Regions from separate parts of the Homo sapiens genome. Here region 2 is linked to region 1. The links come from fine-mapping of genetic effects on plasma protein levels. Region 1 holds a variant in brackets. A gene starts in the other region. All regions are shown on their forward strands.

The links. PIP is the chance, under the fine-mapping model, that this variant and not a neighbour inherited with it causes the effect. The UK Biobank Pharma Proteomics Project read protein levels with antibody pairs (Olink). The fine-mapping took linkage between variants from a reference panel, not from the people measured, so its PIPs are less certain.
Region 2: PPY starts here. The variant in region 1 is fine-mapped to the plasma level of the PPY protein (UK Biobank, PIP above 0.99).

Annotation. Positions count from the first base shown.
Region 1 is chr7:156,983,587-156,995,063 of GRCh38, forward strand. No RefSeq gene overlaps it. Among named protein-coding and RNA genes, the nearest start is that of MNX1-AS2, 17 kb to the right of the region's middle. The variant T/C (reference allele first, on the strand shown) is at 5,192.
Region 2 is chr17:43,932,023-43,943,499 of GRCh38, forward strand. PPY (pancreatic polypeptide) reads right to left here and starts at 10,454. Exons shown (of 4, transcript NM_002722.5): 1 at 10,399-10,454; 2 at 9,442-9,632; 3 at 9,121-9,192; 4 at 8,782-8,930. The coding sequence starts at 9,632. The coding sequence ends at 8,906. It overlaps LINC01976 (long intergenic non-protein coding RNA 1976), which reads left to right and starts at 6,239. Exons shown (of 2, transcript NR_136406.1): 1 at 6,239-6,375; 2 at 6,539-6,940. It also overlaps LOC102724183. RefSeq lists an enhancer at 6,025-6,525.

The DNA of each region.
Region 1 (11,477 bases):
ACATATAAACTGTATCATATATAATACATCTGCACATATAAACTATCATATCTGCACATATAAACTATCATATCTGCACATATAAACTATCATATATCTGCACATATAAACTGTATCATATATAATACATCTGCACATATAAACTGTATCATAATACATCTGCACATATAAACTGTCATGTATATCTGCACATATAAACTGTATCATATATATTTGCACATATAAACTGTGTGTATCATATAATACATCTGCACATATAAACTATCATATATAATACATCTGCACATAGAAACTGTGTATCATATATCTGCACATATAAGCTGTGTGTGTATCATATATATCTGCACATATAAACTGTGTGTATCATATATAATACATCTGCACATATAAATGTGTGTATCATATATATCCACACATATAAACTGTGTGTGTATCATATATCTACACATATAAACTGTGTGTATCATATATAATACATCTGCACATATAAACTGTGTGTATCATATATATCCGCACATATAAACTGTGTGTGTATCATATATATCTGCACATATAAACTGTGTGTGTATCATATATAATACATCTGCACACATGCTTCTCTGTATTGAAAACCAAATTGTCACGGACCACTCCCATTCTCACGCAGCATTTAGGGCTGTGGCTAGCCTTTCCCAGCTGTAAGAAACCTGTCTTTCAGCATGATAAACACATTTACTTATTTGCTCAGTCCTCTAATATGCAGAAAGTAGTTTTAGAATTGCCAAAACCATACAACTTGGAAAAACAAGCATGATTACTTCAAGATGTGTTTGTAGCTCCTTCTGTCCTGGCATTGGACGTGGAGAGAAAGCACAGACTGTTCCAAGTTTCATTTTTCCCCTTCTCTGAAACGCAGAGAGCGTTGTTTGTTTCTGTTTGTATTTCATTTGGGTCCTCCCTCTAGCCTTATTCATAAATTTGTAAATGATCTTTAACAATCTGTTATATTTATGATGTTTTACTGCGTGCTGCCTGTGAAAATGTTTCCTTCTTCTGACACGTTCCAGAACAACTAGGCTTTTAAATTCCAAATATTCCTGTTTCACAATAAACCAGATGAGGGCCTCTGTTGTGCCACAGCTTTTGGAATGTGGTTTATTACCAATAGAAGTGGCTGCGTGGCTTGTTATGGTTTCAATTACACGTGAGTAACAACCGGGGCCCTTCTGTGTCAGGTGCTGCTGATCAAGGCTGGCTAATGGGGACCTCGCTGTCCAGAACGGGCGTTTCCCATGGCCCGGCCCAGCTGTTTACCACTTCTGTCTACCATTTCAGAGGGGCTTTGCGGAGATTAAATGAGGTGAAGCGCTCTGAGAACCTCAGTCCTAAAGAATAGCAGTTATACTGGTTTTTGTATTATATTTATATATTCTTCTTGTTAATATACTGGTTTTAATGTTCATCGTTCTCTTGGGATCCCATGACAGTGAGCCTGGTGTACCTGAGGTCTGGGATACTCACACCTCTCCCCAGTCCCATGCTCCCCACTGTGGCAGTGCCTGTCAGGGACCCTGCTGACCCCAGGAAGCCTCGGTGTCCCCAGCGCTGGCTCTGCTCACACAGGCAGCAGGCTTAGTGTTCTCTGGCCTGGCTGCACTGACTGGACCAGGGACAGGGGAAGGGCCCCAAAGCACCCTGTTCCAGGCAGCCGGCCAGTCGTGGCCGAGGAGCTCCATTCAACAGTGGCACCCAGAGGGGCCAGGGTCTCATAAAGCTGGTCAGACGCCCCCTCTGGGTAGGGGTGTAGGAAGCGGCTGTGCAGCCGGGTCCCAGGTAGGGAGGCATAGAGTGAAGGCTGTGAGCAGGAGCCCTGGGGCGGAGGGCCAGGAGAAGGCTGGGCACAGGTCCATCGGTGGCAGCTGGGTGGGCAGAGCAGAGAGGCTGCATCTGCACGACGGCAGGGCCCTGGTGTGGGAACAGCAGACGGGGCCCCTGGGTGCGGCGCCTCCTTCCCACATCCCTGCTGCTCCTGCATCTGCTGCTGGAGAAGACCACGACGTGCTCAGACCCCGGCACTGGAGAACTCCAGATGTGGTGAGGGCTGCACGTTAGCTGCATACGCACATCTGGAAGGTGAGGCAGACGTGCCCACCGCCTCCATGCCTGGCCCACAGTTGTGGGCATGCAGAGCTCCTCTGTGGCAGGCCCAGGCTGCACCAGCTGCCTGGAGAGGCACTGGGGGCGGGGCCTCACTTGAGGGGCAGATTCTCCCACCCAGCCAGTCCAGGCCCAGCGGCTGGAGCATCCCGTCCAGCAAATTGTCCTGCAAGTTGCCCTGGAGACCCAGCGTCTCTCATCACGTCTCACTCCCCTGCCAGATGCCTCTGCGGCAATAACGAGAGTGGCTCTGCCTTCTGCACTGAATGCCGACAGGTGACCAGAACATGACACTGGGGTTATGCAGTGCCCTGGTTGATATTCTAGTTCATCAGGGAGCTTCTGGAATGATTTTTTTTTTCTTTTTTTTTTTTTTTTGAGACAGAGTCTCTCTCTGTCGCCCAGGCTGGAGTGCAATGGAGCAATCTTGGCTCACCACAACCTCTGCCTCCGGGGTTCAAGTGATTCTCCTGTCTGAGCCTCCTGAGTAGCTGGGATTACAGGTGTCCACCACTATCACTCAGTTAATTTTTATATTTTTAGTAGAGATGGGGTTTCACCATGTTGCCTGGGCTGGTCTCAAACTCCTGACCTCAGGTGATCTGCCTCCTCAGCCTCCCAAAGTGCTGGGATTACAGGCATGAGCCACCTCACCCAGCCAACTTTCTTTTGCTTCACTTTTCCTCTGGTTGCCCCATCTTTATTGTCAAGTCCTGTTAAGAGGAACAACATTAAAATGAGAGCTTTCATGGCAAAAAGGTTGCTGTGGGTTGAGCTTGCAATGTTAGCTGCGTGTTAGGATTCAGCTGACATCTGTCTCTGGAGTCTCGCCCTTTCTGTAATTCGCTTTTGACTGTAATAAATGTTGTACAGGCCAGGTGCAGTGACTCACACCTGTAATCCCAGCACTTTGCAAGGCCAAGGCAGGTGGACCACGAGGTCAGGAGATCGAGATCATCCTGGCTAACACGGTGAAACCCCGTCTCCACTGAAAATACAGAAAATTAGCTGGGTGTGGTGGCACCTGCCTGTGGTCCCAGCTATTCGGGAGGCTGAAGCAGGAGAATCACTTGAACCCGGGAGGCGGAGGTTGCAGTGAGCCAAGATTGCACCACTGCACTCCAGCCTGGGTGACAGAGCGAGACTCTGTCTCAAAAAAAAAAAAAGAAAAGAAAAGAAAAAGAAAAAAACGTTGTGCAGTGAATGTGTGGGTGGGGCCTCTGAGTTACATCGGCTCAAGGCCTCTTTTAAGGAGGACCCAAATAAGAGTGGGGATTGATGTATTTGACTGGGAACCCACTCAGGGCCACCATGCAGTGAAGCTCCGGAGCAGGGGTGTAGACGCCCTGCTTGAAGCGTTGAGAAGCCCCACAGTACAAGTGTGCAGAAGTCAAGCTCCTCCTGCTGGAGCAGGGACAGGGCAATAGGGAAAGGCTTTTCCAGAGGCAGGGTCATTGGGACTGGCTCTTCCGGGAGGAGCTGAGGGCACACGCTGGGCAGAGCTGACCTCTGTGTGCGGATCGCCTGGGATGGCGCCTCCGGTGGCCTCACGATAAAGCACCTCAGAGGCAGGAGATGAACTTGAGACCTGACCGTGAAGGAGTGAGGAGTGAAGTCCTCTTCTCAACAGAAGGAAACCATCAAAGAGGTTACATAATCAAAACTGTGTTGTCAAAATATTGCTGGACAGAGATGGCGGCTGGTCCGGCACGTGGGAATGTTGGTGACAAGAGGTCAGTTCGGTGGCTCTTGGACCTCCCAGGCCAGGAGGGAAGCGCCCAGGCCAAGGTGGGAGCCTGAGAATAGAGATTTCAAGAGACGCTTCTAATGAATGCTCATCAGAATGTTATTATTATTTTATTTTATTATTTTATTGGGACTGGATTGACTTGCATTTCCTTCACTAATCAGAAGTTTGAGGGCAAAGATAAATCTCAAATAATCACCTTGCATTTCTGATGAGTTAAATGAGTGTGTTTTATGCCCTGGTTGTATGAGCTTGCTTTTCCACAAATAAGAGTGGAAATTTTATTTTATTATTATTTTGTATTATTATTTTATTTTATTTTTGTATATTATTTTATTTATTTATTTATTTTTATGTGGCCCAGGCTAGAATGCAGTGGTGCGATCTCAGCTCACTGCCACCTCCGCCTCCCAGGTTCAAGCAATTCTCCTGCCTCAGCCTCCCGAGTAGCTGGGATTACAGGCACTCGCCACCACACCCGGCTAATTTTTGTATTTTTAGTAGAGACGGGGTTTCACCATGTTGGCCAGGCTGGTCTCGAACTCCTGGCCTCAAGTGATCCACCCACCTCGGCCTCCCAAAGTGCTGGGATTACAGGGGTGAGCCACCGCGCCGGGCCAGAATGTGGTGCCCTTAAACGAGAGGGTGGAGGGGGCAGTGGAGGCTTGGAACGTCTCTGAGAAGGGGGCGGAGGCTCATAGATTTCAGAGGAGGAGGATTTCAACCTGAGGCGCGTTGCGTTTTCTGGGGCTAGTGGCACCCGTGGAAGTCAGGGCTGAAGGATGTAGACACCAGCTCTGGGTGGCAGCCTAGGGATCCAACAAAATGTGCAGTCCCTTGAGGAGAACGAGGTATGAGAGGAAGGGGCCCCAGAACAGAGCAGCGGGTGAGTCCAGCGGGTGGAGAGAGGCCCTGTGAAAGCAGCCACAGACCAGCCGTGGAAGCATCTAGAGTCAACTCAGACACCTCCCAGGGAAGGCAGTTCTACAGCACGGAGCCAGCATCACGTAGAGACTGAACAGTAACTGAAGTGTGTGGGCTTCTGGAGGGCCGCGCTGTACCTCCCTGAGCGTGGAGGACTCCGGATGTCTGTGTGGATGCTTGTGTGTAGAGAGTGTTATCAAAGTGCTATAAAACTTGGATTTTTCTAGTGACAGTAACACTGGCCAGGGAATGGGGAGCTTTTCTTGTTCTCAGCCTTAACTGTTGCATCACAGGCTGCACTGATGAAGCCGATGGGGGGTGTGGCTGCACAGGGGCCGAGTTCACCAGAAGGTGACACTTATCTTGAGTAGAGCTGGACAATGA[T/C]GAAAAATGATGTTTGCGTGGTAAAATGATGAAAGGGAACAGGGCCAGTTTAACATGTCCTAAGGATGCAGGGGGTGTTCAGAGTTCGGGGGCCGTGTGTTTGGGGAAACAATGGCCCCTGTGTGTCCCACAGGCCAGGCGGGCTCGGGTGCCAGAGCTAAGCAGTGCTGACCTTGACATGTCCAGATGACGATGCTTGGCCCCAGGACTTCCGTGGCCCCCTCCTCACTCTCCCCAGCAAAGGCTGACCTTTCCGAGCACGACTGACCATGGCCACCGCGGTGTTTCCCTCCCTCCTGCTCTGGGGAAGGAGCCGTCAATCCCTCGTGCACTCAGTGCCACCAGGGCTGCTCCCGCCCGGGGCTCACACTGATGTAAGGCCTGATGAGCCTGGGCCTCGCCAAGCAGAGCCAAGTCTCAAGCCCACGCCGGGGCAGCTTCAGCTCTGGTGGAAGGAAAAACGATCAAGACCAGCTTTTAAGGTATTTTCTATAGAAAATCACTGAGAATGGGCTGGGCGCAGTGGCTCACACCTGTAATCCCAGCTACTTGGGAGGCTGAGACAGGAGAATCGTTTGAACCTGGGAGGCGGAGGTTGCAGTGAGCCAAGGTTGCGCTACTGCACTTCAGTCTGGGCAACAAGAGCGAAACTCTGTCTCAAAAAAAGAAGAAAAACATTGAGAATGGATTATTCATTTCATTTTGTCAGTGTTTCCAAAGAAAGAGGGCAAATTCTTCCACTTACATTATTATTATGTTTGCCAGTTAACATTTGGCCATGTTTGCTTTTCCTGTGGTTTTTCAGTACACGTGTATATACAGTTACGTAGGGAGCCATTTATACCCATGCATGTTCTGATGGGATTGTTGGAGTACAGACATGGCCACGCTTCACTTGGTAGCCTCAGCCTGCAGCCTGGGAATGAGCGCGTTCTCCAGGGCACCACAGCACCTCTCGACCAGCTTCCAGTCCCGTCATTCTTCATTAAAAATAAGACTTCCTGTGCCCCTCTCCCTCTCTCCCCCGCAGAGATCACTCTGCTCATCTTTAGGCCACTGAAGTAGTCCCGGAGGGCCTGGGTCCGCGAGCCTGGTGAAAAGCGATGCTCCGACCTCATCTGTGACTCTCGAGGGCTCCTCGTCCACTGTGGCGAGTGCAGAGGACGCGGCCTGGGCAGTGCCTGCGGGGAGACCGTGCTGGCCTGGGCTTCCCAGTGAGCGGGGCTCCTCAGGCTTCCTGGGCCCTCGTCCTCCCGGACTGGTGGCACTGTGTGCCTGTTGGGGGGTGGCAGGCAGCGGGAAGGCCCAGGTGTGGCTTGCAGGCCTCTAACGCCAACTGCACAACCTTGAAGCTCCACTCCAGCTACGCTGTGGCCCCATAGCCAGGTCTGGGGTCATTTCTTATGACACCACCTGTCCTATTTTGTTACCTTGTCCCTGCGCTAGTTAAAAAGCAAGTAGAAAGGTTAAGCATCACTTGTGCAGTCCCCTGGCAGCTAGGCGACGGCCCCTCTGTCAGCCTGTCAGTCAACAGGGCTGGAAGGGTCCATGCTCACCGGACCTGTCTGGCCTCCTCCTGACCGTCAGCCAGGGCACCACCCACTCTGAGCTGCTGTGGCCCATCATGTCAACTTACCATTTCCTTTCTCTCTAACTGTTCAGGCAGGCCTGTGAGCCCACAGAATCACAGCCTCAAGCTCTTGGCCTCAGGGTGGGCCCCCTGACAATGATTCTCAGTTCTTCTCTCCGCTGATCTTTCTTCCTGATGGAGAGGCACGGGGTAGGCGGCCGGCTAGCTGTCGCGGGCTCTAGTGAAATCTGTGGACAAGTGCTGAGATAGGAGACACTGCACTGGTGACGCCTCAGGGCCTCAGGGTCACACCAACAGGGTCCGGCTGGTGCCGCGACCAAGTCACAGCGCCTGTCTCTGTCATCAGCTTTTCCTTTTCTCCCATATTTTCAACTTGGTTAGAGGGCAGGAGTCCCGCTCGGTTTGCCAGCAACCTCACATTGATAAGAATAAGTGCACTTCTAGCTCTCCGATCCTGGGATTTTATGACGTATGACGGGTTTTGTGTCCCTGAAAGGACGTAGGACTGTGTCTATCATTGGGTTGGTTCTCATCGAGACAGAGCGGGTGCCTGTTTATTGAGCAGACTGGGTCTCTTCCCATGGAAGTGCACATAGGAGGGTCTCTGAATCCATTCTTCTTTTCATTCCCCATTCTGCCGTGAATATTGTTGCAAACATCCACATTAATATCGATTTTGTCATTCTTTTTTTTTTTTTTGAGACAGAGTCTTGCTCTGTCGCCAGGCTGGAGTTCAGTGGAGCGATCTCAGCTCACTGCAACCTCTGCCTCCTGGGTTCAAGTGATTCTCCTCCTGCCTCAGCCTCCTGAGTAGCTGGGACTAACGGGCACGCACCACCACACCCAGCTAATTTTTGTATTTTTAGTAGAGATGGGGGTTTCACCATGTTGGCCAGGATGGTCTCGATCTCTTGACCTCGTGATCCACCTGTCTCGGCCTCCCAAAGTGCTGGGATTACATATTTTGTAATTCTTAAAAGCTGATGGATGATCCAGGACATCTGTGCTGTCTCCAGGAGAACTATCCTCATTGAAAGTAAAGCAAGCTTCTTTTTTATTGGCCGGGCACGGTGGCTCATGCCTGGAATCCCAGCACTTTGGGAGGCTGGGGTGGGAGGAGTGCTTAAAACTAGGAGATTGAGATCAGCCTGGGCAGCAAAGTGAGACCCGCCCCGCATCTACACAAAAATTAAAAATATTAGCCAGACATGGTGGCATGCAACTGTGGTCCCAGAGGCTCAGGAGGCTGAGATGGAGGATCCCTGGAGCCCAGGAGTTCGAGGCTGCAAGGGAGCTATGATCACATGACTGCATTCCTGTCTGGGCAACAGAGTGAGACCCTGTGTCTTTATTCTAAAAAAAAAAAAAAAAAAAATTGAAATGGAAAGTCAAGCAAAGCTTGCAAAGTACAAGACAAGACCCAAGGCTCTGAGGACCAGCCTAACATCTCGGAGCCCAGCACCGCACGGCAGGCACCTGACAGCCACCCTCCATCAAACAGAGGCTGTTACTGTTTCTATTACTATTACTACTATTATTATTGCTTAATTTTGCCCAGCCTTGGCCAAATCCCTGATTTCCTAGGAAGACTCAATCCCAAACAGATGTGTGCAAAGGCCTAATTATCAGACAGGATGCAAAAACAAAGCACAACAAACCTAGACCTCCCGGGAAGTCTTTGTCCGGCACTCACCGCGTGTGGAAAAGCAAGCTCATACAACCGGGGCGTAAAACACACTCATTTAACTCATCAGAAATGCAAGGTGATTATCTGAGATTTATTTTATCCTTGCCTTCAAAATTCTGATTAGTGAAGGAAATGCAAGTCAGTCCGGTCCCAAGCCAGCTGGAGCAACCCTCAGATCGCCAGTATTCTCGCCCTTTCTGACTTCAAGGGACAAAGGGTTTTAAAGGCCCTCTGTTTTCTGAATCAGACTTAACAGGGCCGACGGAGTCTGGTTTCCTACTTTAGCAATGGTGGAAATAACACTGATAAATCAAGTTTTGGAGGTGTTCGAGCCTCACACCTAGGCAGCGGAGTGTAGGCTGGGGAGCTTGCGGGGACGTGCTGCACTGGCCCAGGTGTCCTGCCGCACCCACAGAGCACTCAACACAGAGCTCAGAGACAGCGGGTATATCACACAAGATGCACTTCCGGAACTGTGCCTCCACCCCTGTGTGTGTGAAGGAATGAGTGTTCCTTTTTTCCTTTTATTTTAACAGTTGACACTGTTAAAATAGTTCACATGAGGGCTGGGTGCGGTGGCTCACGCCTATAATCCCAACACTTTGGGAGGCCAAGGCAGGCGGATAACTTGAGGTCAGGAGTTCGAGACCAGCCTGGCCAACATGGTGAAATCCCGTCTCTACTAAAAATACAAAAATTAGCTGGGCGTGGTGGCAGGTGCCTGTAATCCCAGCTACTCGGGAGGCTGAGGCAGGAGAATCGCTTGAATCTGGGAGGCGGATGCTGCAGTGAGCCGAGATCATGCCCCACTGCACTCCAGCCTGGGCAACAGAGTGAGACTCTGTCTAAATAAATAAATAAATAAACAAATAAATAAATATAGCTCACACGGACGGGCAGAGGGCTGTTCCCCCAGAAGGTTCTGGATGGGTCTGGTCTTCCTCAGAACTCTGAGGCATCACGGGCAAGGCACCAGGAGAGAGCGGGATTTTCACTTTGCCGTCTTTCACTCCAGGGTTCCCCTCTGCAGGCCCCGAGTCAGGGCCTGGACGAATCTGAGTTGCCGCAGCTCCCTAGGGGCAGCTGGAGCAGCTGTTCTGCCCCCAGACCTGCAGGGACCCCCATCTTCACGCGGAGACAGGCGGGTGCTGCAGCCTCCAGGACCCGCTAGCTTCCTAGCTGAGTGCTTGGGAAGCACCTGGAGCAGCAGAAACAGCCACTGGGGCTGAGGAGTCAGGAGAGAGGCAGCGGCGGATGAGCTCTGTCTGCCCAAGCAGATTCCACGGCCAAAGCAGGGGGTCCGGGTATGGCGGGAGCTGGGCCCTGGCGGCTGCAGGCTGTGCACGTGGTCAGGACTCAAGGAGGTCCGGGAGTCGGGCCAGGACACGGGGGAGCGCCTGGGAGCTGCTCCCTTCCTTCCCTGCTTCCCTCAAATCGATGTCCTCTGGTTCCTACGGCCTTGGGGGCTTTGAGGGAAGCGACTCTGCACACGGATGGCAGGAGCTCTGTGCCCTCAAGCCTGCCACCCCGGAGAGCTTCCCAGGGCCTGGAGCCCAAAGTGCCATTGAAGTCGCAGTGGGAACACCTTGCCAAGCTGAGGCGCTCCGTGCCTAATGGGATAATAAAGCACTTTGTCACCCGTGAGTGAGAGGTCTGATAAAAGCAAAATATTATCACAGCATCTGTGATTAGGAGGCAGCTGCACACTGGAGACACAGCCACATTTATGAGTAAATAGAATTTGTTTCTGTGCTCTGATTATGAGGGTCACAGTGGTTTAACCCTGTTGCGGAGGCCTCAGATACATTATCTGCTCAAATAGAACTGGGAAGGAAAACACCGGCGGTCATTAAAAGCAAATTACTTTGTTGTACAAAGATAGAAGGGAGAAGGCCGTGGAAATCTTGAGGTGTGGGGCCCTGGGGGTGCCACGGAAGGGCAGCATCTCTGGAGGCACCTGCAGGCGGGAGCTGGGACATGGGAGTGACCCGCCAATCCACCGGCAGCCAGAGATTCAAACAGGTCGAGGGCTCCCTGCGGCTTCCTGGAAAGCTCTCGGGATATTTTTAGTCAATTCTGGAAGCTGCCTAGAGTGCAGGAGGTGAGGGTGTCTGTGCCTTCTTTACCTGTGAAAACAAAGGGAAAGATTTCTGCGAGATGAAATTGGCCCGTGTTTCTGGTTTTTATTTATTTGTTTGTTGAGACCGAGTTTCGCTCTTGTTGCCCAGGCTGGAGTGCAATGGCGCAATCTTGGCTCACTGCAACCTCCGCCTCCCAGGTTCAAGCGATTCTCCTGCCTCAGCCTCCCAAGTAGCTGGGACTACAGGCATGCACCACCATGCCTGGCTAATTTTCTGTATTTTCAGTAGAGATGGGGTTTCACCATGTTAGCCAAGCTGGTCTTGAACTCCTGACTTTAGGTGATCCACCCGCCTTGGCCTTCCAAAGTTCTGGGATTACCGGTGTGATCCACCGTGCCTGGCTGTGTTTCTGGCTTTAAATGTATCAAAGGACTTGCTTGTGTTTTGATGCATTGATGCATTGGCTTTATTTTCAAAGTGAAATCTCTGGCCAGGGGGCCTCTTTGGAAGGAGGGCTGGCACAGTGCCATCTCTACACTGGATACTGTGGGGAGTTAAAAAAAGAACCAAAAACTGGCCAGGCACAGTGGCTCACGCCTGCAGTCCCAGCACTTTGGGAGGCCAAGGCGGGCGGATCGCTTGAGCTTAGGCGTTTGAGACCAGCCTGGGCAACATAGCAAAACCCCATCTCTACAAAAAATGCAAAAAAATTAGCCGGGCATGGTGGCATGCATCTGTAGTCCCAGCTAATCGGGAGGCTGAGGCAGGAGGATTGCTTGAGCCTGGGAGGTTGAGGCTGCAGTGAGTCGTCATCGCATCACTGTACTCCAGCCTGGGCGATAGAGTCAGACCATGTCTCAAAAAAAGAAAAAAACAAAACAGGCCAGGCGCGGTGGCTCACGCCTGTAATCCCAGCACTTTGGGAGG
Region 2 (11,477 bases), not on the chromosome of region 1:
GCTTAGGTTGGAGTTCAGTGACGTGATCTCTTCTCACTGCAGCCTCCACCTCCTGAGCTCAAACTATCCTCCTGCCTCAGCCTCCCAAGTAGCTGGGACTACAGGCTTGTGCCACCATGCCTGGCTAATTTTCATACTTTTAGTAGAGATGGGGTTTCGCTATGTCATCTAGGCTGGTCTCAAACTCCTGGACTCAAGCAATCCGCCTGCCTTGGCCTCCCAAAGTGGTGGGATTACAGGTGTGAGCCACCGCACCTCGCCCACCTTTGCTCTTTTACCCTGGCTAGGAGCCCAGGATGTCCCAGAACGGGGTTACTTCTTTTGGGGTGAGCCCTGAAATGATGTATATTCCACCCACACTGGGGGCACCCAAGGAGGCTCCCTTCCCTTCACCTGCCCCTCACCACCATCCCCAAGGCTCACCCGTCTCTGTCCTCTCGCCGTCTCCAGCCTGACCAGGTGGGAGGTCCTGATGCCCTTCCCAGGACTGGGCACTGCGGTGGCCCCAGCACAGGGCAGGGCCCACCTGAAGCAGTGTGACCTGCTGAAGTTGTCCCGGCAGCAGAAGCAGCTCTGCGGGAGGGAGCCCAGCCTGGCTGAGACCCTGTGGGACGCCATGCACCTCGGCCTGGAGTGCCAGTTCCAGTTCCGGCATGAGCGCTGGAACTACAGCTTGGAGGGTAGGAGGGGCCTGCTCAAGTGAGGTGGGGAGGAGGGCTATGGGAGGAGGAGGGCTGGGGGCGCGGGGGAAGAAGGCTTCTGGGAGGAGGAGGAGGCTGGGAGAGGCTGCCTTTTCCTCTCCCCTGGACCCTGTGCCCAGAACACACTGCCCTTGCTACCCTAGCACGGTTCCATATGAGAAGAGTCCCGGGATTAATGAGGGGCAGTTGAAGACCAGGTGTGGCCCAGCCTCAGGTTTCGGGGAGCAGAGGAGCAAGGAAGATCCAAGAGAAGAGGAGACACAAGTCCGGTCCTGGAGGAGCCCACAGATGAGAGGGGGGTCCCCTAGTTACCTTCCTCTGCCTCTTCACACACACATGCGAAACAAGGCACATGAAGACATGAGGACAGGCAGCAGCGGGTTCCAGGACCCATGACATGAGCCAGGCCATGCATTTGTTCACTCCTTTAGCTGTCCCTTTGTTCATCACATCCATTGATCCATCAGTCCCTCCCTCCCTTCCACTCCCATTCTACCTCCCTCCCTTCTTCCTGCCTCCCTCCCACCTCCACCCACCCACTAAGCATCCATGGAGGCCCACAGTAAGCCAGGCACTGTGCTAGATGCTGGAGGTTCAGAGCTGAACAAGACCCCAGCTGCCCTTGGGAAGCATGCAGTCTAGAAGGGAGAACACAGGTCACCATGTGACTCCCTCACCAAGGGGAAAGGGCTTTGATGGGACATTTTTTTAAAAAATGCAGTGATGCTGTACAGGGCAGCCAGGCCTCTCCTAGGCCAGCTGCTCTCCACTGTCAGCAGTCAAGCTGATGGCCTCTCTCAGGACATCACTAGCACCCAGATGCACTGAGGGCAGGTAGGAAGTAGTGAGCCGGTGGGAGGACAGCTTTGGGCCACACCCAGCAGAAAGGAGTAGCGGTGGTCCCGGAGTGGGTGGGATGGTCAGTCTGGGGCAAGTCAGCCAGGAGACTCAAGGTCACTCTATCATTGGGTCTATTCCACAGTGGGTAGCAGAGAATGATATTTGAGAACCATCATGCATCACAGGAAGCCCCCGGCGCTTATCTCAGCGGCCTCAGAAATAGGCCGATCCAAATGGTCACACACTGACTTGGAGTCAAAATGGCGGGTTTAGCCCCAGCTGTGGTGGCACCAGGTATCTGCGTAGCTTCTCTTTGCATCTCAGTGTTCTTCTCTGAGAAGTGGAGGCCATAGCCCCTGGCCTGCTGCCCTCTGGGAATTTGGGCATGTCCTCCACAGTGAATTTGGAAGTTCCATTTAAGTGGGAACTCGCAGTCAGAGTTTAAGGGGCAGTTGACAGGGAGACCCACCCGGAGTTGTGTCCTCAAGCCACATTCCCTCATCCTGCCCATTGCAGGGCTACCACTACCGCCTCCTGCCCTCAGAGAGCAGCAGGCAGCGTCTGAGCTTCTTCCTTTCCTCTCTTCCCCCTTTCCTCCCTCCCCATACCCTTCTACAGTTCCTGGAATGAGTAAGAGAGTCTGGAAGAGCAAGGGGCTGAGAGCCTTCAGTGCCTGCAGAAAAGCCTGGGTTTGTAAGGGCAGCCAAGGCTGCAAAGGGACACATGGTTTGAGCTCTTGAGCTCTTCAACACTGGGCTGTGACAAATGGGGATAAGGAATAGCCTGTTTGCTGGTATTTAGGGTACACTGGTCCCCAGATATCTCCTCCCACCTGTACTATGGAAATTTATCATGGGAATTTCATTTCTTTTTCTAGAGATTCTTGGCTGCGTAGAAATGCGGTCCTGGTCTCACTTGGCTACTGAGCCATCCCATAAACTTCAGTGATATTGACATTGACATTGAATTTCTCACCCCCACTGAGAGCAGGGTTGGTTTGTATGTTTGTTTGTTGTTGTTTTGAGACAGGGTCTTGCTCTGTCACCCAGGCTGGAGTGCAGTGGTGTGATCCTGGCTCACTGCAGCCTCAATTTCCCAGGCTCATGCAATCCTCCCACCTCAGCCTCCCCAGTACCTGGGACCACAGGCACATGCCACCACACCTGGCTTTTAAAATTTTTTTTGTAGAGACAAGGTCTCAGTATGTTGCCCAGTCTACTCTCAAACTCTTGGGTTCAAGTGATCCTCTCACCTCAGCCTCCCAGAGTGCTGGGATTACAGGCATGAGCCACCATGCCTGGCCGAGGGCAAGTTTTAATAAGGAGAAGAGGCCAGAAGATGAGACACTTTCGGGAGAAGTGGAGATGGGAGAAAGGGGTTCTTTTAAGGCCGGGTGTGGTGGCTCACGCCTGTAATCCCAGCACTTTGGGAGGCCAAGGTGGGTGGATCACGAGGTCAGGAGTTCAAGACCAGCCTGGCCAAGATGGTGAAACCCCATCTCTACTAAAAATACAAAAATTAGTACGGCACGGTGGCAAGCACTTGTAATCCCAGCTACTCAGGAGGCCGAGGCAGGAGAATCGCTTGAACCTGGGTGGCAGAGGCTGCAGTGAGCCGAGATCATGCCACTGCACTCCAGTATGAGCGATAGGGTGAGACTCCATCTCAAAAAAAAAAAGGTTGGGGGGGGTTCTTCTATGAGTGGAGGGGCTCTCACGCCTGTTAATCACCTAGCATGTGCCAGGAGCTGCCCAGAGGCTGAGTTACATCACCCAACTCCATCTTCACGACAGTCCTATGCCAGGATTTAACCAGCTCCATTTCACAGATGAGGATGTGGAGGCTCAGGGGAGATAATGTCCCCTAATCAAGGTCACACAGCCAGGAGGGAGTGAAGTCAGGATTCCTACCCAGAAGCCCCTGCTCTTCCTACTGTGCCCCTTCTGGGGTTGGTGTGGGCATGAAGAATTGGTGCACATTTTACAACCTTGCCCCATAAAAGCAGCAATATTGAGGAGGTAGAGGGGACCTGACAGGCCACACAGCTGAGGCTCTGTGGCCTGAGGCAGCCAAGGCCTAAGTCCATCATCCAAGCAGCCAAGACCCACCACCCTCCAGAAGGCTCAGCAGGTCATGCCTCAGGGGCTCCAAAATGGCCAGGCAGGCTGAGAAAATCTCCAGGTTGTGCAGCGGGGCCTGCAATCCTGAAACCAGAAACTGCAACTCCACCCCCTCCCCATGGCAGCGGGCCTAGGGGGAGGGAATAGGGGTGCTGGGATCCCAAAGTAACCCTGCAGGAGAAGGAGGCAGAGGCACCTTGGATCTAGCCAGATGGGGAGGGGCATCTGGTCTCAGCATAACCCCCTTCCAAACCCTGACAGTAACCCCTGGGAAAAGCACAGCCCCCTCTCAAGCCCAGAGCCAGTTTCTCCCTAGGATCTGTGTACTTGGAGCAAAAAGTTACCCGACACCCCACGCCTCCCTGCCTCTGCTACCCACACTTCTGGGCCCCCGGCAGGGACTGTGACCTGGTCAGAACAGCTGGTAGCCCATGTGCTTCCACCCCCACCTTCTCTCCGTTCCGGACTTTCAGGTCACGACACAGGGAGGAAAAGAAGGCTATGCTGGGAGTGGAGCCTCAGAGGGAAAGGGGGCAGGGATGCTTAGGAATATAAAGGGCCTCAGGTCCTGGCCAGAGACACTCTGCTGAGCTCCTCTGCACCTGCCCAGCACCATGGTGATGTCTGGTGGCCAAGTCTGGGCCCCCATCAGCTGTATTCTCTAAGAGCTTGGGGATGGGGGCTGGCACCAAGGGCCCCTCCTCAGGCCCACTAAGGGCATGAAGGAGTTAGGCCAGGGCAGCCTCGTCTGCCATTCTGATGGCCAGGATAGCTACTAGGGCTTCTTATTCCTGCTTGGGGTGGTGGGGATGAGGAGAGTTCCTGGTTAAAAGAGGGTTGAGGGGCCTAGGAGCTCTGGGAGTGTGCATCATGTTTACGGGCATCATAGTCTGTGAATCATTGTGTGTTGCAGGCACAAAATTCTCTGTGCATTGGGTGTGTGAATCCTCAGGCTGGCTTTCCTGTGTGTAACTGTTAGTCATTCATTTAATATGTATTACTGAGTATCTGCTAAGTGCCAGGCACCATTCTAGGTGCTTGTGATCCATCAATAGACAAAATAGGCGAAGAGCCCAGCTGTAATTAATGATGCTTACATTGAGGGAGGATATGCCGCTGGGAAGGGACTCAGACAACAAATATAAGTATAGAATATAGTAAGTTAGAAAGTGCAGGCCAGGTGTGGCGGCTCATACCTGTAATCTCAGAACTTTGGGAGGTGAGGCGGGAGGATCTCATGAGGCCAGGAGTTTGAGACCAGCCTGGGCTACATAGCAAGACTCCATCTCTACAAAAAATTAAAATTTAGTTGGGCATGATTGTATGCACCTGTAGACCTAGCTACTTGGGAGGCTGAAGCAAAAGGATGGCCTGAGCCCAGGAGTTTGAGGCTGTAGTGAGCTATGATCCCGACACTACATTCCAGCCTGGAAGGCAAAAGAAGGCCTTGCCTTAAAACAATAAAATAAAATAAAAAGAAAGAAAAGAAAAAATAGGGCAAAAATAGAGCAAGAAAAAGAGCAAGATGAGGGGTTTGGTTGCAATATTATTTTATTTATTTATTTTTTTAAATCGTAGAGACGGGGCTCTCTGTCTTTTGCCCAAGCTAGTCTTGAACTCATGGGCTCAAGCAGTCCTCCCACCTCGGCCTCCCAAAGTGCTGGGATTACAGGCGTGAGCCACCGCGCCCGGCCAGGTTGCAATTATAAATAGGGGTGTCAGGGTAGGATCCATTTAAAAGGTGGATTTTGAGCTAATGCTTACAAGGGGAGACAGAGCTGGCCATGAGGATGTCTGGAGGAAGAGTCTTCCAGGCAGAGAACAGAGTGACCGTCATTTTGCGGGAACAGCAGGGAGAAAGGAGGGGGATAAGCAAGGAGTTTGCGGGAGAGAGGGCAGTGAGGTTAGGGAGCTGACCAATGGCTTTATGCCGTCCTCATGCGTCCACCTTAGGGTGTGTCTCCTCGTTCGTTTTTTTTTTTTTTTTTTTCTTTTTCTTTTTTTTTTTTTTCTTTTTTTGAGACGAAGTCTGGCTCTGTTGGGCAGGGTGGAGTACAGTGGCGCAATCTCGGCTCACTAAAACCTCCACCTCCCGGGTTCCAGCAATTATCCTGCCTCAGCCCCCAGAGTAGCTGGGATTACAGGCGCCCACCACCACGCCCGGCTAATTTTTGTATTTTTAGTAGAGACGGGGTTTCGCCATGTTGGCCAGGCTGATCTTGAACGCCTGACCTCAGGTTATCCGCCCGCCTCGGCTTCCCAAAGTGCTGGGATTACAGGCGTGAGCCACCGCGCCTCGATGCTCTGCCTGCATCACCGGGCATGTCCAGGTGTGTACCATTCCTCCGAGCACCAGGATGTCCCTTAAGGCGTCCGTGCTCTGGTGTGTGTCCCAGAAATAGACACGACCCTCGGTCTGAGCGCCCCTGCACCCCAGCCTGCCCACCGCGCGGAACACCTGCAAGCTCCGGTCCGGGTGCCGCGCTGACCACAGCCCCGGCATCACGTGACCTCCCGCGGCTCTGTCTGCCCCGCCCCCTCCAGACGCCTGCTCTGCGCTGCGCATTCGCTCTGGCCATAGCGGGCCTCGTGTCGCTGCTGATGCAGCCCGAGGGCGCCCTCGGCGAGGAGCTGCAAGTGCCGCAGCCCAGGGCCGCCAGTTGGCTGAACTTAGGCTCCATCAAGAAGTACTTGGGGAAGCTCTTCAACAGCAGGTGGGCCGGCGGAGGGTGTGAGGAAGGGAGGGAGGGAGGGAGGAAAGCGGGGGGTGGGGGGGGCGCGGGGGGGGGACACGGACGCCACCAGGCACCCCCACGCACATCGCGGCCTGAGCTGGGCTCGGGGAGCGGCCTCATGACTGCAAAGACTTGTTCCCAGCCCGAAGAAATCTAAAAACCACAAGAAAACTGCGAACGCCACGGACACCTCCCCATCAAAAGCCACGAAACCCCCACCATGGACCACCACGAACCCCCAGTGGCTGAACACCTCGGAACCCCGACCACCGACCTCCTCCCGGGGCCCCAGGTAGGACAGCCTGGATGCTGGGCACCGAGCCAGGGGCCTCGGGGCTGGGGGCAGCTTGGGTGCTAGCGAGAGGAAGTTCCTGGGGGCGGGCATGCGGGGAGACACAGCACCCCTGTGGGGGGGGCTTCTTTCTCCAGGCTGGGCCTTGGCCTCCAGACGCCTCTCTGCCCACCAACCCCTTTGTATTGAGAGGGGCCTCGACCCCTCCTCATCCCCTCAGTGAAAACAATAAAGACAAATTTTTGTTGCTTCAGTGACTTCTGTGGGCCTGCGGGCAGGGAGGGACCAGTCCATGGAACGGGAAGTGGGACCCTGTAGTTTCTGCTGTGAGAGAAAAAGACCTCAGCTGTTGGGGGTCCTCCCCTGCCTCCCCTGGCAACCCATCCACCTTCCCCCACTCCACCCACACATGGCCTTGTGGGTCTGGCCCTCCACCCCGTGGTAGAGACACAGATACGGGTCCTGGAGAAGACACTTATTGCCCCTGTAGTCCTGCACAGACAGCACCAGTGTGGGGGGCTCTAACCCAGAGGGAGAGCAGAGGTGAGAGAAGAAACCTCAAAGAAGGGGCTTCAGCTAGACACACCCCAACTCCCACCTGGCTCAAGTTTCTACCAAACAGCCCAGACTCCTCTCCCCATTCACCGCGCATCCCCTTAAGCTGCCAGAGAAAATGCTGGGACTTCAGGCTCCCTCTCCCAGACTCAAACCGTTCTTTTGCGAAACCATCTCTCTATCCAGACATCTTTGGATTTAAGAATCAACCTGAGGCTGGGCACAGTGGCTCACACCTGTAATCCCAGCATTTTGGGAGGCCGAGGTGAGCAGATCGCTGGAGCCCAGGAGTTTAAGACCATGCTGGGCAACATAGCAAGACCCTGTCTCTAAAAAATAAAAAAATTTGCTGGGTGTGGTGGCATGTGCCTGTAGTTCCAGCTGTTTGGGAGGCTGAGGCAGGAGGATCGCTTGAGCCCAGGAGGTCAAAGCTATGGTGAGCTGTGATCATGCCACTGTACTCCAGCCTGGGTGACAGAGCAAGATCCTGTCTCCAAAAACAAACAAAAAATCAATCTGAGCCAAGCAGCTGCATCCTCTAGAAGCTCTTTGCCTTTTAGGACCTGTTTCTACTTCCAGGTCATTTGCACACACCAGATGGAGTAGGACTTGAGGGGAAACACAATTGTGTGTCATTTCCATTTCTGTGCAAGGTGCTGAGCCCAGGAAAGTGGACCCCTCATCCTCCAAACCCATAACCCCATCCCTTGAGACCAAGCATGTGGGGGAGGCAGGAGAAGCCTTTCTAGGAACCAGAAACATTCTAGTTCCCTCACTTCTCCCCTTTACACATGCGCGTACACACGCATGCACACGCGCACTGTCCCCACCTATTCAGGGTGCCTGAGAAGGGCCAGGAAAAGATGGGTTCTCTGGGAATCTGGGAAGTCCTCCCTGGGGCAGGATCCAGGTCCTTGTCCTCCCAGGGCTGGAGTGTACAATCTACAGATTCAACTCATGGTGGCTGGAACTCTCAGCTAATCTAGCCTCCTCCCCTTCCACAGCAGCTTGAATACCTCCTGTGCCCAGGACTTCACTACCTCTCAGGGCAGCCCATTCTCTCCAAATTTCTGGACGGCAGCTCAGGCCCCTGGATGCAGCCATGACTGCCATAGCACCAGAATCGTTCTTCCAGGCTGGGCTGTGCCCCTGCCCCCATGCCAAGGGTGCTTTCGTATAAATTTTGGTGCTTCTGCTGCCTAGGCTGCAGTAAGGCACTGGTGAGGGGTGCACTTGGGGAAGGGTTGTCATCAGGCTGTGTCGGGAAGGTCTATGGGTACTGAACTGGGAAGATTCAAGACTGCCACTTCACAGACTTGCTGAAGGACCATCTGCTCAGAGGAGTCCCTGCCTTCCTCTGGCCACCACTTTTCCCTCTGCGAAGGGGAGAGGATGAGTTGAGTGACTCTGATGACCCCCGCCAACGTTCTGGATGATCCCCTTTTCCTCTGCCCTGCCCTGCCCTCCCCTTTCTCTCCCATGCATTTGGCACTTCCTGCTGCCCCCACCAGGGGTCCACAGAGACACAGGACAGGCTGTGGCTTTGACTTGCTTTATTGAGCCTGTGTGGGAGCAGGGAGCAAGCTTTGGCCAGAGCCAAGGGTGCAGAGGGGAGAGCTGGGCTGGCGCTGCTCATGGAGTCGTAGGAGACAGAAGGTGGCATTATAAGTCCAGCGGGCTGAGCTCCCTGTGAGGACAGGGCAGAACATGGCAGTGTAGGGGGTAGGCCTCGTGCCCTCAGGAGGCCTCAGGCTGGCCCTGGGCTCCTGTTCTCCCTCTTCCACCCCCCACTACACCTTTCCAAGCCCTGATTCAGTCCCACCACCCCCATTTCAGCTCCAGGGAGCTGGACAGACAGGGCAGGGAGTCAAACTCACCTGGGGACAGCAGCATGCGGGGACCCCCACTCCGAGAAGGCCAGCGTGTCCTCTTTGTGTCTTTTCCCATACCTGGGAGGGAAGAGGCAGCAGGGGCAAGCACTGTGCCCAGGTGCCAGCCCACCTGTTTCATATCTGCCTGTAGGCACCATCTTGCCCAGGGCACATTGGTCTAGGCCTGTTGAGCACAGATGCCCTGTTTTCCCAAGAGCAGGCCTGGAAGGGGCTGGGGCTGGGGCTGGGGATAGGGTGTGGCCAGGAATGTGGAGTGGGCCCAGGGTCCCAGGGGCTGGGATCTCTCTCCCCAACTGTGGCACACACCTAGGCCTGGTCAGCATGTTGATGTATCTACGGAGATCAGCTGCATACTGGGCCATCTGCTCTGGTGTGGCATTGTCCCCTGGGTACACTGGCTCCAGTGGGGCTCCCTGGGCACCCAGCAGTGGCTGTAGTAACAGAGCCACGCAGGTGGACAGGAGCAGCAGGGAGAGGCAGAGGCGTGCGGCAGCCATCTGAGGAGCAAGCAGAGGGGAGGTGGAGAGCCCGGGCTGCAGATTTTCCCGTGCCCAGGAAGCAGGGCCCAACTATCCAGCCCCTTAGCCCATCATCCATTTCTCCAAGCCTGGGGACAAGGGGGCAGAGCAAAGGGCCACTCCAAGCTGGCCACTCCACCTCCTAGACACTGCTCTGAAGGCACGGACAGCCTGTCCTGTGAGCAGCCCAGCAAGCCAGGGCCTCGCAAGTTAGAAAAGTATAGCAGAGAAAATGGGGATGTGAGTCCTGGAGACACGGGACTCATGACATCCAGGGCCTCATGGCTCCCAGGAGGCAGCAGCTAGTGGGAATAAGGGCATGCCAGGTCACCCACAGGGTGGGGGACACAGAATGAACTCGGGAAGCCAAGGACAGAAATCCATGGCCTTGTGGGTCTGGCCCTCCACCCTGCGATAGAGACACAGATATCGGTCCTGGAGAAGACGCTACTGTCCATGTCGTCCTGCACAGACCAGCAAAGGCACTCACACAGGGACCCCAGTCACTCACAAGGTCACAGTCACACATTCCAGTTCACAGCCATGCACACGAGTGTGCACACACACGTGCAGTCAGCAGACGGCTCTTCTAGCGTGACAGGTCTGTCCAGATGCAGAAAGCAAGACCCAAGCAGGACCTTAGGCCTCCCAAGGCCCCTGGCCCTGCAAAGCACCACCTCCTCTCCATCCCAGGCCCCAGCCTGGGGGAGGCCCCCAGAGCCCCAGGCAGGCTGAGCCCACTTACCCGGAGTCCAGAGTAAATGGGCACTAGACCAAGCGAGCACCTGCCTCAGGCCGGATGGGCCCCTGCCCTCGGCTGGGCCGCTTTATAGTCCTCAGCCCCCCAGAGTCCCCGCCTCCTGTCAGCCTCTCTCACTCCGAAGCCCTCACCCCTCCTCTCACTGTCTCCTCATACTGGCAACGCCAGTACTGAGGCCAGAGACGGGAGGGGGACAGGGCAGTTCTGTGGGTGCCAGACCAGCAGCATAACAGATAAAACTGGACCACAGTAAAAGTCTCCTGTGGGCCCCCATCACTGACACCCCTTCCCTTTGGGCACCAGAGCAGGCTTGGTTCAAGAAAGATGGGGTTCTGGGACTCGAGAGTGACTGAAAGGTTTTGGTCACAGGCCTTGGAACTAGCTCTCCTGCCTCCCAAAGATCAACCCAAATCATCCAACGGATTCTCTTGGGGCAGAAGATTGAGGCTGCAGCTGGAAGACTGAGGCTACAGCCAGAGCCTCCAGGCTGAAGAATGGAAACTCAGGCCATCCTCTGCAGCTTGCAACTAGAACAAGGTGGGAAGAGGGAAGGGGCCTCAGGTCCTCAGGCAAGGTGGAAAGGAGTGGGGTGCCAGGCTTGGAGAAACCCATTTGGTGGGTGCATAGGATGCAGAATGAGAACTCATGTGCCTGGGTTCAGGGGAAATGTTGAGGGGGGTGCCGGTTTCCAGTATCCATTTCCCTCCCCATCTCAGAGCCCCCATTCCAGGGAAGTGCTAAAAACCAGCTTCATTTGTAAAGCCTCACATTTTCCAAAGTGCTGCCAGCTCAGTCACCTCACTAAATCCCCACAACAACCCATTTTACAGATTCAGGATCTGAAATCTGCTCAGAGATGTCAAATCACTGGCCCCAAACCCCACAGCCAGTCAGACCCCAAAATTTAACTCCAAACCTGGACTGTTTTTTTTCCTAAGTGGGGCCGTCAAAGTATTGTTATAATTTCCCACTTTTTGGCTGAGAAACCTGAGGCTCACAGAGGTAAAGACGCTTGCTCAAGATCTCATAGCTACCGAGGTTCCGAATTCTGGCTTAGATTCTCA